Linked DNA regions of Homo sapiens: region 2 is linked to region 1. Evidence: fine-mapped expression QTL. Tissue or cell type: whole blood. Region 1 holds a variant in brackets; the other region holds the start of a gene. All regions are shown on one strand. Distances are from middle to middle.

Region 1 (8,261 bases):
ATTCTTAACAATTAAAAAAACAATTTAAAAGTGAGAAAAAGATCTGAAGAGACATCTGAACAAAGAAAATACACAAGAGACAAATCAGCAAATAAAAAGATTCTCAGCCAGTTGCGGTGGCTCGTACCTTTAATCCCAGAACTTTGGGAGGCCAAGGTGGGCAGATCACCTGAGGTCAGGAGTTTGAGACCAGCCTGGCCAACATGGTGAAACCCTGTCTCCACTAAAAATATAAAAATTTGCTGGGAGTGGTGGCATGCGCCTGTAATTGCAGCTACTTGGGAGGCTGAGGCAGGAGAACTGCTTGAACCCAGGAGGCGGAGGTTGCAGTGAGCAGTGATCACACCATTGCACTCCAGCCCAGGCAACAGAGTGAGACTCCACCTCAAAAGAAAAAATAAGGCAATTTTACAGTAAATACGAAATCTCATTTCTGAGGGGCCCCCCCCACCTCCAGTTAGGTGATCCATTTGGTATGGTTGGGAGATGTGACACTCAAGGCTGGTATACCACGTGGTTACTGATTGAGAAATGTACATCACTGGGAAGAATGGATGGACTGCATGTTCTCTATGCAGCTATCAGTACACCTCTCTCTAAGCTGGCTTTTGAAAAATATGGCTGTGGGTTTGAGGTGATAACACTACCCCCTCTCCAGCAGCTCCTGTGTCGTGGTGCACGTATCAGGTGGTCTTTGTAGCCAGTGAAGATAGAATCCGGATTGGAATGTATGTTAAACAAAGGCTGAATCAGGACATGTGCCAAGCTGAAAGACTTTTCCAGTTCTGTACAACTGAGCCTCAACAGTGTGTTATGACAAAATTGTTCTCCAAACATTAATTTGTGGTCCGCTCCCATACACAAACAATACCAAATAATGGACTATGTGTCCATCTTGTCCATCTTTGACACTGTGCTCTACCAAGAGAGACACCTCCCAAAGCCAGAAAATGTTTATTAAACAAAATCAATGAAATGTCTGAGCACAGTCCAGGTGGCAGAGGTTTACTTCTTGAATAAATGACTTCATCTTTTAACACCATTTCACACTGAAGTCCAAATGGCCTCACAAATATTTCCTGGATCCTAACAAAGAAAATAATCTCAGTTGAAGATCCTGTATTCAATTATTTTGGCAACTGTTTCTTACGTGTTTTCTTTTTCTTTCTTTTCTTTTTTTTTTTTTTGAGGAGTCTCGCTCTGTTGCCTAGGCTGGAGTGCAGTAGCACGATCTCAGCTCACTGCAAGCTCCGCCTCCTGGCTTCACGTCATTCTCCTGCCTCAGCCTCCCGAGTAGCTGGGACTAGAGGTGCCTGCCACCATGCCCAGCTAATTTTTTTTTTTTTGTATTTTTAGTAGAGATGGGGTTTCACCGTGTTAGCCAGGACGGTCTCGATCTCCTGACCTCGTGATCCGCCCACCTCAGCCTCCCAAAGTGCTGGGATTACAGGCGTGAGCAACCGTGCTCGGTCATCTTACATATTTTCTTTGTCTAAATGACTGAGCTGGGTGCTGAGGAGATGATGTTGGCCAGGATGGTCTCTATCTCCTGACCTCATGATCTGCCTGCCTTGGCCTCCCAAAATGCTGAGATTACAGGCGTGAGCCACTTTGCCCAGCCAAGATTGAAATCTTGATGAAAAAAAGCAGTTTGGAAACTTACCTGTTTTTTATTCAAAGCCCGTCCTCTCCTTCCTGTTCATGAATGGCAGGCATCCTGTGGTGACTGAAGAAGGGCCTAGCAGCAAAGGGACTCCATCGCCCGAGGAGCAGCTTCCGCAGGAGCTCTGGCAGGTTCCTTGGAAAACGTGGCAGTGCCGGCCCATGGTGCCCTGTTCAGAAATACAAGACTCAGATTTAGTAAAGCCAGTTGTGTAATGTGAAATTCGTTTAAAAAATCCTTAACCAAAACATTTCATAAGACCGATGTATTCTATCAACAGTATTTTACTGTATGTTCATACTTAACGGCATTAAGAATCACCGTGATGGGCTGGTGACATGCATCTGGTTCATCAATGTTAGTGGCAAAGCTTCCAGCATCTACAACTCTAGTCACCAAAATCAAGAATGTCTTTCTCTTCTCTTTTTACCTAATTACAAAAAAGGGATTGATTTATGAAAAGCAATATATTAACAAATAGCACAACTTATGTTCATATCATTGCCACTTCTAGCCACAAATTAGGAGTCAGGATTAAGGAAAACTTACCTAAGTTTTCCCAGGCTATTTTAAAATTGCTTTTTTTCTACAAAAATAAGTGTTAAATTCTTCTTTTGAGGTAGTCTCAATTAAGTTGATGCTAATTGGAAAAGACTATTAGATCTTAAGCTGAACTGACAATTTTATAAAATAAATAGACTTCCTTTTCTACTATTAGAATGTTCTAATAATGAGTTCTATTATTATAGTAATACTTCTGAATTCCCTTTTAAAATATTGTTACTATCTTGGCATTTTTCAGACTTAACCTGAAAATGTTTTAAATATCAAAATAGACATATCCGAAGTTTACAACAAGGGTGTACAATCATGATGGGCACACTTCCTCAAACATGGGGGACCAACCCAACTCAGACCCATCACACCCTCAGCGTGTGGAAATGTTAAACTATACAGGAACCATGGCTGGAGACAAAAATCTGTAGGTGTCCCTGACATAAAATGCCATAGTACTTGCCTGCAGCCTGGACACACCCTCCAATATCCTTCAAATCATCTCTAGATTACCCACAATACCTAATACAATGGAAATGCAACGTAAATGGTTGTTATACTTTATTGCATAAAGAATGACAAGAAAAAAAGCTTGTACATATTCAGTACAGATGCAACCATCCTTTTTTTTCTGGAATATTTTTGATCTGAGGTTGGTAGAAAGCAAGGATGCAGGACCCACAGATAAAGAGGGCTGACTGTATTTAACACACACACACATTTTCTTTTGCCTGAGTAAAAAACAAAATTGTACTTGTAACACAGCTAAAGGATGTCAACAAAACTGTTCTTCCCAACCTCAAATTGATAGAGACGACCTTCAAAGTCCACATAGAACCTCTTATTGCCTTTTGTATTTTTAGTAGAGACAGGGTTTCACCATGTTGGCCAGGCTGGTCTCAAACTCCTGACCTTGTGATCCGTCTGCCTCAGCCTCCCAAAGTGCTGAGATTACAGGCGTGAGCCACCGCACCCGGCCATCTCTATTTCTTATACACAATAATATTATAACAAGAAAGATGTAAATTTGCTTAATATGCAGCTTCTGTTTCTGAGTTCTGTAGCTGTCACTCAATAAGATAAGAAAGCTACTGATCTCACCAAATCAAGGACACAATACTGTTCCCTCAGGTAGCACAAATTGCATGGGCTCAAAATATGGGAAAGACAATATTTTATGAAATGGTGTATTTTAAGGCTGACCTACAGATAGGAATTTTTTTTCCAATCCAAGCAATAAAGCTTTGATGTGGAGGTTCACTCCACATCCTGTCCTGATCCTCAGCTGCCAGAGGCCAGCCTGTACTTGCCTTCACACTGCGTCTTCCTTCATGGCTTCAGGCTAAGATTGCTGGGAGCCTCCTATAAATGTGGTCATCTTATGGATTAAACACTTTTTTTGTTAGTTTTTTTTGTGTTTTAGAGACAGGGCCCACTGTCATCCAGCCTGGAGTGCAGTGGTATGATCATAGCTTTCTACAACCTCTAACTCCTAAGCTCAAGTGATCCTCCCAACTCAGCCTCCTGCGCAGCTAATTTTTAAATTTTTTTTTGTAGAAACGGGGTCTTGCTATTGTTGCCTAGGCTGGTGTCAAACTCCTGGTTTATAGTAACCCTCATACCTTGGCCTCTAAAAGTGCTGGGATTACAGGAGTGAGCCATCATGCCCAGCTTAGATTAAATACTTTTTTTTTTTTTTTCAGATGGAGTCTTGCTCTGTTGCCAGGCTGGAGTGCAGTGGCGCAATCTTAGCTCACTGTAGCCCCCACCTCCCAGGTTCAAGTGATTCTCCTGCCTCAGCCTCCCGAGTAGCTGGGACTACAGGCACGTGCCACCATGCTCAGCTAATTTTCGTGTTTTTAGTAGAGATGGGGTTTCACCATGTTGGCCAGGATGGTCTTGATCTCTTGACCTCATGATCCACCCACCCCAGCCTCCCAAAGTGCTGGGATGACAGGCGTGAGCCACCATGCATGGCCCAGATTAAATACTTCTTTAGGAGATGGACTAGAAATGGGTCATCAGAAATTGTTTTTACTTACATATGAAGAATTCCAATCTTCAAAAGAATTTTAGAACTCAATCAGAACTTGAGAACTTCTTTCAGTAGGTGCTGTGATTCAATAACCAGAATTCTGCTTTACTTTATAGTTACACAAGTATTTCTGTCATTTTCCTACTAAATTACATGAAGGGGGTTGTCTGCTTATGAGCTGCACCACCGAGCAGCATGCCTATCAGCGAGAAGGTGCCTGACAATTCTCAGTTGAAATGTCCTGACCAAGTTCCCCCAGAAATTTGTGAGTATTCAACTGTATTAAAACTAAATATATTGTTTTTAATGACAAATAGT[C/T]ACTATTTAGTAAAATGATTACTGTGCTATAATAGAACAAGTCCTTAGCCCAAAATTAAATGGCCACAGATTGACATATGCATAAAGCTTATCAACTATCACATAACACATTTTAACAAAAATCAAGAGGACTAATAGATGATCTCTTCTTTTTCTTTTGTGAGACAGGGTCTTGCTCTGTCACCCAGGCTGGAGTACAGTGGCACAATCATGGTTCACTGCAGCCTCCACCTCCTGGGTCCAAATGATCCTCCAACCTCAGCCTCCCAGGTAGCTGAGGCCACAGTAGCATGCCACCATTCCCGCTTAGTGTGTGTGTGTGTGTGTGTGTGTGTGTGTGTGTGTAGAGTCTGGTCTCAAACTTCTGGGCTCAAGCAATTCTCCCTCTTTGGCCTCCCAAAATGCTAGGATTACAGGCATGAGCTAAATCGTACCAAAGAAATTATATTTTAAAAGTAAAGTCAAAGGTAGAATTTAAGAACAAAGGAATTCTATTTCTATACTTACTAGTCCCAGGTAGACAAACAACACAGCCTTCCTCAGCCTCTACCCGAGTCATTTCAGACGAGTGTGAGCCATGAGAAATCAGAGCTGTTATTTTCGGGTTGAAACTGACACTTTAGGCTACTGTTTTCATTTGCCTGTTGAAAGAATAACTTAGCTGTATTAATCATTTAAATTAAAATTAAACATTTTGAAGGGAAAACATGGGGAGTAGACAACATCTACCTTACTCAAGGAGGCAGGTAATCAATGTAAAAGGAATGAGAAAAATCACCATTGGAACCACGGGTGTAATCAATGTTTCCAAGAGGCTTCGGCAATGATGCTGAAACCAGCTCGTGAAGGTTGCCAGGGACTAAGATGTTCACAGTGCTTTGATGTCTCATCCCACAGATGACTAATAACAAAAGGGAAAAGCTACCCTCACAAGGAGATGTCCAGTTGACACTATCTCAACCAAAATTATTAAACATAGCATCAGCAATCGTGGGACAAACAGACGCAAACATCTCCTGGTGTGAGGCGGTAAGTACACAACACTGCCTAATCTGAATTAGGCATTATTCCCTGTTTAATCTGGATCCACTCATGAGAACACTGTTTAATCTGTATTCTTGCCAAAATGCTCAATCTATTCTAGTCAGGAGAAGAAAAAAGCAACCAGATATATCTAGATTATGGGTCACTCTACAAAACAAAGAGCCTAGATTTTTCAAAATGTTTCATGTATTGAAAGAACTACTCCAAAGTAAAAGAATAGAGAGACGTGACAACCAAAGGCAAGGTTAATCTTTGATTAAACTGTGGATCTAAAACAAAAATAAAGAACATTTTGGAGACAATTAGGTAAATCTGAATATGGGCTGTACATCAAATTACTGTATTATAGTTAGATGGTAGAACTGTAATTACATAGAAATATGTCATTATTCACAAGAGATAAACGCTGAAGTGTTGGGGTAAAACATCATGCTCTTTTCAACTTACTTTCAAATGATTCAGAGAAGAAAGTACTTATGGAAAGAGAAAGAAACTGCAAAAGGTGGCAAATGCTAGCCACTGGTTGATCTGAATGAAGAATATGTAGATGTCCATTGTTTTGCCTTTTAATTTTCTGTAGGCAAGGGAAAGATAGGAAGGAGGGAAGGTGCAGGCATTTCTTATCAATTCATACCTGTAAAAAACAGAGTTAAAAGAAAACCAAAGGCTTAAAATTCATGTAAACATCCAGTGAGATCAACAGTGATTTTCTGTCAAATTTCTGAAAAGCCATTAAGACTGTAACATACCTGACTAGGATCACCTGTAGGTAACTTAAAGTACTTTTTCTGGAGGTTCCAGTCCTTCTACTTCGTATGCTTTATTCCATCATTCCTGGAATTGCCAGTTGTTCGAAATAAACCTCTAAATGATCATCGTAAGACATTTCATCATCAATATCATCCTTTAATAAAATTAAGAAAAAATAAAACAGGCTCTAAGGCAGTGACTAAACAATAAATAATTTGTAATAAAAAGGGCTGAGATATAAATGAGTCAATAAAATTAAGAAAAAATAAAACAGGCTCTAAGGTAGTGACTGAACAATAAATAATTTGTAATAAAAAAGACTAAGACATAAATGAGTCAATAAAATTAAGAAAAAAATAAAGCAGGCCTTAAAGTAGTGACTAAACAATTTGTAATCAAAAATACCCATCAGACATAAATGAGTCAATAAAGTATACAATTTTTTTTTTTGAGATAGAGTCTTGTTCTATTATCCAGACTGAATGCAGTGGTGTGATCTCAGCTCACTGCAATCTTCACCTCCCAGATTCAAGCCATCCTCCCACCTCAGCCTCCCGAGTAACTGGGACTACACGCGTGCACCACCTTGCCTGGATAATTTTTGTATTTTTTTTTGTAGAAATGGGGTTGTCCCATGTTGTCCAGGCTGGTCTTAAACTCCTGGACTCAAGCATTCCACCCACCTTGGCCTACCAAAGTGCTGGGATTACAGGTGTGAGCCACCTCGCCTGGCCTGTTTTTATACTTGACATGAGAAAACTGTTATAACTTCAGTCAATTATAAGTTATTATAAAAAAATATTTAACCTCTTTGAGAGGACAGGACAGAAAGATCCTGACACGTTATCAAAGCTTAGGGTAGGATAAATGTGCCATCACAAATGAATGGGGAAGAGAGCAGGCACTTCAGAAAATGGTGTGGCAAATGGTTACCTCTATCAAAAAAGTACAGACGAGCCTATCCTAAGAGAAGTAAAAGGAAGAAAGGGAGGAGAGAGAGAGAAAGAGAGAAAAAGGGAGGGAGGACACTGCAGAAGGCTTCAATGTTGTAACACCCAGCTCGGCAAGGATAAGATAAACCAAGAGCTCTCAGTCATGGTCTAAGCTGGCACTGGCTTTTATTTATTTATTTTTTTTTCGAGGTGGAGTCTCACTCTGTCACCTAGGCTGGAGTGCAGTGGCGTGATCTCGGCTCACTGCAAGCTCCACCTCCTGGGTTCACACCATTCTCCTGCCTCAGCCTCCTGAGTAGCTGGGACCACAGGCACCTGCCACCACATCGGGCTAACTTTTTGTATTTTTAGTAGAGACGGGGTTTCACCGTGTTAGCCAGGATGGTCTCAATCTCCTGACCTCGTGATCCGCCCGCCTCGGCCTCCCAAAGTGCTGGGATTACAGGCGTGAGCCAGTGCGCCCGGCCTACCTTTTTAGAGGTTAATTTTGCAATTAACATTAAGAGTCTCAAAAACACTCATCACCTTTGACTTAGCCATTTCACCTCCAATAATCTAGCATACTAAAACACTCTAAGATCAGATACATTTAGGTCAATAATTCTTTATCCACCAATTACACAATCCAAAAAAATTTTAAAAACTCTTTTGGCAGCACAAGCTGTCCTCAATAAATGTGATACTATTTGTAGTTTCTATTTATACCACTCAGCTGGCCTTCAAAGCCATGCATACTTTTAATGTAAGTAGCCCCAGCCTACTTCTCTGGGGTTATTTACCAACGCAGCCTCCCACAGATGCTGTAAACCTGACACAGAAAGCCCCTGGCCGTTCCCCAAACACTGCCCACATGCCTCCCAGCAGCGCCTTTGCTGATACTGTTTCTGCTTCCTGACACGCCCTCCTTCTCGCACGTCTAAGGCCTGGCACGGGCCCCATCTCT
Region 2 (8,000 bases), 66 kb after region 1:
TGTTTCTAGAAAAAAAAAAAAATGAAAAGGTGGTCAATTTTCTGCAACTCAACTGGGCTTAATTCCTTTTTATAATAATTGTGCAGGCCAGGTGTGGTGGCTCACATCCATAAAATCCTAGCATTTTGGGAGGCCAAAGCAGGAGGATCACTTGAGCCCAGAAGTTCCAGACTTCCAGACCAGCCTGGGCAATATAGTGAGGAAAAAAAAAACCTTAAAAGGAAAATTAGCCAAGTGTGGTGGGGCATGCCTGTAGTCCCAGCTACTTGGGAGGCTGAGGTGAAAGAATCATTTAAGGCCAGAAAGCAGAAGTTGCAGGGAGCCAAGATAGATCCCACCACTGCACTCCAGTACTGGCAACAGAGGGGGACCTGTCTCAAAAAATAATAATAATAAAAATGAATAAATAAATAAACAAATGATTGTGTATCCAGCTAGATGTAACTACACATAGCTACAATCCCAGCTACTCAGGAGGATGAGGTGGGACGACTGCTTGAGCCCAGAAGTTCCAGGCTACAGTGAGCTATGACTGTACCACTGAATAGACACCATATTCTAGCCTGGGCAACATAGAGAGAGCCCATCTCTTATAATAATGATAATAAATTAATTGTGCATCATTCAAGTAACTTGCATAACTGGAAAAAAACATAACCATTGAATATAGTATAATAGTATAACTACTGATCATAGAGTTCCTTTTACTTGCTTCTAATCTTTTCATTTCTTATAAAACTAAAATATGGTTGACCCATTCAAGGCAGTTCATCACAGAACAAGTCAAAAAGCCAAAAGAATTGCATGCAAGCTGTAGGCTGTGTTATCCACTACTCCCTGCAAGCAGTGGATTTGGTCATTAACAATCAGCAGGACTTTTAACTTTGTGTGCGTGTGTGTGTGTGTGTGCGCACCCGAACGCACATGTGTGTATGTGCACGTGTGTGTGTAAACTATGACAGATAAAACCATTTTGCTTATGTAAGAATATGTAACATAACTTGTGCTTCTCACAAAGGAATTGCTTTTCTGTCTTCTGCACTCAGTAGGTATCTTCAAAAAATAATCTCCTATTCGTATGGGTGCACACTGGTTCACTTTTACAGTTCTTACTGCCATTTATTTATTCTACGAGAAAGGGATTGTTGAGTTCCCGGTTCTAAAGATACTTCCTTAGTGACACAAATTAACAGGTAATACAGTTCACCCTTGAACAGCAAGGGTTTGAGCTGCAGGAGTTCATTTATATGCAGATTTTCTTCTGCCTCTGCAACCCAGAGACAGCAAGACCAACCTCTCTTCCTTCTCAGCCTGAACAACCTGAAGATGATAAAGATGAAGACCTTTGTGAGGATCCATTTACGCTTTATGAAAAGTCAATATATTTTTCCTGCAGATTTTCTTTCTAACAGCTTCACTTGTCTAGCTTACTTTATTGTAAGAACACAGTATATAATAATGCAGCACAAATAAAATAGGTGTTAATCGACCGTTTATGTTATCAGGAAGGCTTCCAGTCAATAGTGGGCTATTAGTAGCTAAATTGGGAAAATCAAAAGTTATACTTAGATTTTCAGCTGCACTGGAATCAGAGCCCCTAACCCCCACATTATTCATGGGTCAAGTGTAATTATGTATTTACTAAATATAAACAATTTATTATAAAAATAAACAACTTATTACAAAAATGAACTAGAAGATCCATATGTATAACAAGTCCAATTTGTTACAATGTGACTATAGAGAAAACATAAATATTATATAGGATTTTCGGGATCATAATTAAGTAAATGATTTTTTTTCAGATAATACTGTTTGAGATTATAAATCAGCTACAACTACCTTCTTAAATAACTCTTAATTCCAAACTAAAGAAGTTAAATATAAGAAACTAATTTACATGTATGTATATATGTATATATACATGCAATTTACACATCTTTTTAAACTTTTCTTTTCCTTCAAAACTACCTTAATCTTACATCTTAATTTTTTTAAACCAAGAGTAGGACCACCATGAGAAATGAGAAATTCACTATCAGAAGTCTTACCTGGATTGTAAGTTTTAAGAATCTTCTTTTTAAGTTCCAAAATTTGGTGTCGAATTCTGTATATAAAAAAGTAATAAATAAAATTGCTATTTTAATACTGAAATAAAAGTTACCATATTAAATTCTTAATGTTTGGTAAATGTGTAATCAAACTGATTCTTTTTTCCTCGCTGGCTAAAACAAAATACATCTTCGCACATCAACGTACTTCTATATCTATTGTCACCTTTGATGGTCACATATTATTGCATCCTATGGATGCAACTGAAATTTACTTATAAGATCCATTCTATGGGTTCTTTTTAAAATAAGTGCTGTGAAAAACAAAGTGCATGTATCTCTATTTCCCAAGGGTATTTTAGTATAATGGAATTGAAGGGTAACGGGCATACGCATTTTTAAAATATAGTACTTACCACCAAATTATCTATTTAAAAAGTAATCAGCAACTTAAACTTCAGGCAGCAGTATAAAAAACATCCTCACACATTGTGGATAGAAAACAGTTTCATTCCTCTTTTAATTTAAATTCTTATACCAGAAAAGCAAAGGCTTTTTTTCCTATTTACATAAGAAACTTGTAGATCTGCAAAAAAGTACTTTGCCCCCTTTTACAGTTTTTGATTATTTGATTTGAAAGAATTCCCTGTAAAATGAAGATGCACTTTTCAGGCCGGGCGCGGTGGCTCACACCTGTAATCCCAGCACTTCTGGATGGCGGCTCACTGCAAGCTCCCCCTCCCGGGTTCACAGCATTCTCCTGCCTCAGCCTCCGGAGTAGCTGGGACTATGGGCGCCCACCACCACGCCCGGCTATTTTTTTTTTTTTTTTTTTTTTTTGTATTTTTAGTACAGACAGGGTTTCACCGTGTTTGCCAGGATGGTCTCAATCTCAATCTCCTGACCTCGTGATCCGCCCACCTCGGCCTCCCAAAGTGCTGGGATTACAGGCCTGAGCCACCGCGCCCAGCCCTAAAATTTTTACAAATGTCATTACAATAGTAAAAGACAGTAGGTGTCATGCAAAAATGTTAAAACCTTGATTTTTTCATTCGGCTTATGTAAAATTGATAATCACAGAAAGAGCTCACATTTTGAGAAAAATGTGTCTTCCCATTCAGGAACACAGAACCCACCTCCCACTTCCAAGTTTCCTTCTAAGAACCTTCAGTAAAGAACCGATCTACACAGGTGGATACGGATGTAAAACGGACAGTTTTAGGTGAGAGCTTTTCGCTACTGAAAATGACTCACGGTTTTTTGTTTGTTTGTTTGTTTTTCTTTTTTGGAGACGGAGTCTCGCTCTGTCGCCCAGGCTGGAGTGCAGTGGCGCCATCTCGGCTCACTGCAAGCTGCGCCTCCCGGGTTCACGCCATTCTCCTGCCTCAGCCTCCCGAGTAGCTGGGACTACAGGCGCCCGCCACCACGCCCGGCTAATTTTTTTTTTTTTTTTTGTATTTTTAGTAGAGACGGGGTTTCACCGTGTTAGCCAGGATGGTCTCGATCTCTTGACCTGGTGATCCGCCCGCCTCGGCCTCCCAAAGTGCTGGGATTACAGGCCTGAGCCACCGCGCCCGGCCGACTCACGGTATTTTTTGATAGAGGAATGAGTTCTCTCATTAGGCACCTCCTATAATGTATATAACACCATGTTTTAAACGTGTAGGTTAAAAATAACACTGTGTATGCTTAGCTTGGTGAGTTAAATCACTCACATTCTCCACCAAGCGCTCCAGCTGGGGAATTATGGGGGATGCAGAGCAGCTGAGGCTCCGTTTGGCACCACCCCTCTGAGGGTGCCCTCTGAGGCCCCATCCCAGGGGCTGCGGGGAAGCCGGGCCTGGGGACCCCCTCCCACCCTGGGCTGAGCCCCCACCCCACTGCCTGTGCTGCCTGTCCCCGGCTTCCAGGTCTCTGCTCCTGCGCGCCAGGCAGCGCTCCACTTCCGCGGCTTCGCCCTTGACAGCGCCCTGTGGATCTTCCGATTCGGTACCCCGAACCCCTGTAGACGTGGCCTAGGGAGCCCCGGACCGCCGGCCCCTGCGGCTCCCAAAGCCGAAGAACTTCTTCAAGGTGGTGAGTTCTTCTCAGACCCCCAACCACTGGCTCCTGAGCCGCGGCAGCTCCGTGTCACCTTTTCACTCCCCCTCGCCCCACACCCAGCCCCAAATCCCCAATCCAACTCCAAATCCCCTATCCAACCCCCAATCCGCGATCCAAACCCCAATCCGTGATCCAACCCCCAATCCGTGATCCAACTCAAAATCCCCGATCCAAATCCCAATCCGCGATACCAAGTCTGCGATCTAGCCCAGAATCCGCGATCCCGCCTGGTCCACCCTTCAGCAGCGACACTGGCGGCCTCCGACCTCTCAGACCTAGTGAGCCTCGCAAAGCCGCCCGGCTCCCGGAAGCCGCAGGTGCAGGCGCCGCTGGGCTCGCGGGTTCTCCTGGGCTGGCCAGGGCTGCCCCAGGACCACGGACGGAAAATCGCAGGCGCGCGGCCCACCCCGCCTTAAGGGGAGGGCCCGCCTGGCCGTGTAGCCCGCCCCGCTCCTCCTTCCGAAGAGAGATCTGGTGCTGGCATGGGCACCCCGCGGCCACCGGAGTGGCTTCCCGGATGAGCCTGGCTTCGGCGCTGACGCTCTGGCCCTGGGGGCTGCCTGGCTGGTGTCAGGTAGCGGAAGACGCCTGGAGAGTCACTCGCTCCTTCCCCCACCCGCCCCCACCGCTGCTCGTGCCAGGACGCGCAGTTTGCAGTTGCAGCTCTGGCACTGGCGCGGGATGGCGGAGCTTCCCTTGGATGGCGTCAGGGTCACTGAGTGCACAGCCTACCTGGTCTGAGGGTCTGCTCCTCCTGGACACCTCTCCGGATCCTGATCCCTGGCGCTGGGCAATCCACAGGATGAGACTCATCGGCTGCTGGCGAAGCCGACCGCCTGACTTTGCTGCCTGGGCGGCTGGCCCCGGGATCCGCGCTGCTGGGGACGCGGGCCTGGTCTGCGGTGTCCAGCCACTTGCTGCGGGCGCGCCACGTCTAGGCTGGTGGCTGCAGCCGCAGCTCCGCGCCTGCGGGGGCTAGTGGGCCTGGTACCTGATGTCCTCAGGGTCAAGTGCATCGCTCCCCCACCTGAGGGTCTGCTCTGCCTTGACCTCCTCCAAGAGCGCAGGGGCCACCGGGGAGGCAATTTAGGAATGCCTAAATGGAAGGAACTATCCTTTCTCTGTCTTTAAGAAATAAGTGGCTTTTGTTGTTGTTTTTGTGATACCCAGCTACAGCAGAAAGCAAAGGGGATGCAGAGGTGAAGGTCCACAGCCAGTTCCTCTACTGATTCCCTCCAGGCATAAATGTTCAATCTAACGGCTTTGGTTGGCACTTTCACCTCAGCACTTACCTATGCCTACAGGTTTGTTCAATGGCAACTCTTGGATTTTGAATTAATACCCAATTATTTCATATTTTAATACCCAAACTATTTTAATAGTTTACCATATCTGCAATCCTGAATTAATTTTTTCTTTGTTTATAAAACAATCACTATAGTAAGATAAAAATCACAAAACACTTCCACATTTCATTGGGCTAAAAAAGCATTAAAACATTATACGTAAAAGATAAAAAATATATTGTTTCATCATAAAAATTATGGCTTTGCAAATTTTTTTTACCTTTAGCTACATTCTTACGATTCTTTAACTTTTCACTGTTATTTTATACATTTTTAAAACAATGCATACCAGTGTTTAAAAAACAAATGCAGCATTTCATCTAGGACTGAACATATAACGCTGGTCAGCTCTTTCAGCATGGTGCAGGTGTGGGCCTCAGGCTGCTTTCTGTTTACATGTATCAAATGACATGACCATCTTAACTGCACAGATACCATCTTCTCGGCTTCTTTCTTCTCCCCCAAAACTATTTAATGTTGCTTTAATGGCAACATCAATTTAACTAGTTTTGTAATTTCTGTATTTAATTGTCACATAACATTATATCCGTTCTTTTTTTTTTTAAAAAAAAAGGAAAGCATACAATCTTAGTTGCTAGGCCAGTTCTTCTGAATCAATTTGAAATCACCTTTTTTCTCTTTCATAATAACTACTTATTTTAATCAACAAGTCAACTATTATTAGATATTAACTTATTTTTTCTAGTTAAAATTTTGCTATCTTTCAAATAATTCCAACTCTTACACACACATTTAATGTACATAACTGTAACATATACATACATAAGCACAGGTTAAGCCAGATCTAACATGAATTTAGATATGCCAAGAAAGCCACATGACCATTATTTACATAAATATGACCAGTGTTCACATTTATCAAGGCCAATGAATATTAAGGTGATTGCTTCAATAAGAAATTAGGTGAAGAATTATTTGTTGAATATTGTCAAACACTTTTTTTAACCTGTTAAAGTTATTTAAGCCTGACCCAAATAATTTTTAAACTTTTTATTCTATCATGCCTATAGACAGCTTCATATATTAACCATTTCTGCTTTCGTGGTCCTTTGAGAATGGTATCTTAGTATGTAAGTGCAATAAATAAACAACTTTTAAAGGAATAAAGAAAATTGATATAAATTAGTCTGGAAAATCTAGTCTGTAGCTGGGCAGCCAGGTGCCCCCAGCTAAACCTCAAGGGATGGTTCTGTTAAAGTGAAGAAAAGAAGAATAGTGTGTAACAGAAGCCTGCTCTGTGGCTCCAGGTTACAGCTGTGGCCACCCAATCTGCCTTGTGCCTCCTTCTTCTCACAAGTACACACTCATCCCAGCCCCAAGCAAGAAAGACCAAAGTCCCTTGCCAGGCGCGGTGGCTCACGCCTGTAATCCCAGCACTTTGGGAGGCCGAGGCGGGTGGATCACGAGGTCAGGAGATCGAAACCATCCTGGCTAACACGGTGAAACCCCGTCTCAACTAAAAATACAAAAAATTAGCCAGGCGTGGTGGTGGGCGCCTGTAGTCCCAGCAGCTACTCTGGAGGCTGAGGCAGGAGAATGGCGTGAACCCGGGAGGCGCAGTTTGCAGTGAGCCGAGATCACGCCACTGCACTCCAGCCTGGGGAACAGAGCAAGACTCTCTCTCAAAAAAAAAAAAAAAAAAAGAAAGACCAAAGGCCCCTTCCGTTACTGTATCCAACCCACAGTGCAGGTCCTGTGGGCCATGTGCTATGCATCCCACCTGCATTCCACCTGGTTCACAAGTGGCTCCTTGATGTCCAGTGACCTATGAAAAATCATTTGTTAGGCCGGACGTGGTGGTTCACGCCTGTAATCTAGCACTTTGGGAGGACAATGTGGGCGGATCACCTGAAGTCAGGAGTTTGAGACCAGCCTGGCCAACATGGTGAAACCCTGTCTCTACTAAAAATACAAAAATTAGCTGAGTATGGTGGTGGGTGCCGTAATCCCAGCTACTTGGGAGACTGAGGGAGAAGAATCGCTTTAAGCTGGGAGGTGGAGGTTGCAGTGAACCGCTATTAAACTCCACTATTCTTTATTGGGCACAACCCAGGAGGTCAACAAATGTATTTTCCTGTTTTTATTTTATTTATTTATTTTGAGACAGAGTCTCACTCTTTTGCGCATCTGCACTCTAGCCCAGGTGACAAGAGTGACACTCCATCTCAAAAAAAAAGGTAATAATAATAATTATTATTATTCGTGGACCTGCTGGGTTACACCCAATAAAGAATAGTGGTGTAGAATCAAAATAGTCCCAATAAAATTTATATATATATATTTTTTATTATACTTTAAGTTCTAGGGTACATGTGCACAACGTGCAGGTTTGTTACATATGTATACATGTGCCATGTTGGTGTGCTGCACCCATTAACTCATCATTTACATTAGGTATATCTCCTAATGCTATCCCTCCCCCCACCCCACAACAGGCCCTGGTCTGCGATGCTCCCCTTCCTGTGTGCATGTGTTCTCA

Evidence for each region. PIP is the estimated chance that this variant, and not a neighbour inherited with it, causes the effect.
Region 2: FAM153A starts here. The variant in region 1 is fine-mapped to the expression of FAM153A in whole blood (TOPMed, PIP above 0.99).

The regions. Positions count from the first base shown.
Region 1 is chr5:177,712,085-177,720,345 of GRCh38, forward strand. It overlaps LOC107986489 (a long non-coding RNA gene), which reads left to right. Exons shown (of 5, transcript XR_001743020.2): 3 at 4,370-4,518; 4 at 5,469-5,600. It also overlaps a transcript of FAM153A not described here. Among named protein-coding and RNA genes, the nearest start is that of FAM153A, 67 kb to the right of the region's middle. The variant C/T (reference allele first, on the strand shown) is at 4,572.
Region 2 is chr5:177,778,398-177,786,397 of GRCh38, forward strand. It overlaps FAM153A (family with sequence similarity 153 member A), which reads right to left and starts at 4,502. Exons shown (of 23, transcript NM_001413826.1): 1 at 4,346-4,502; 2 at 2,052-2,107.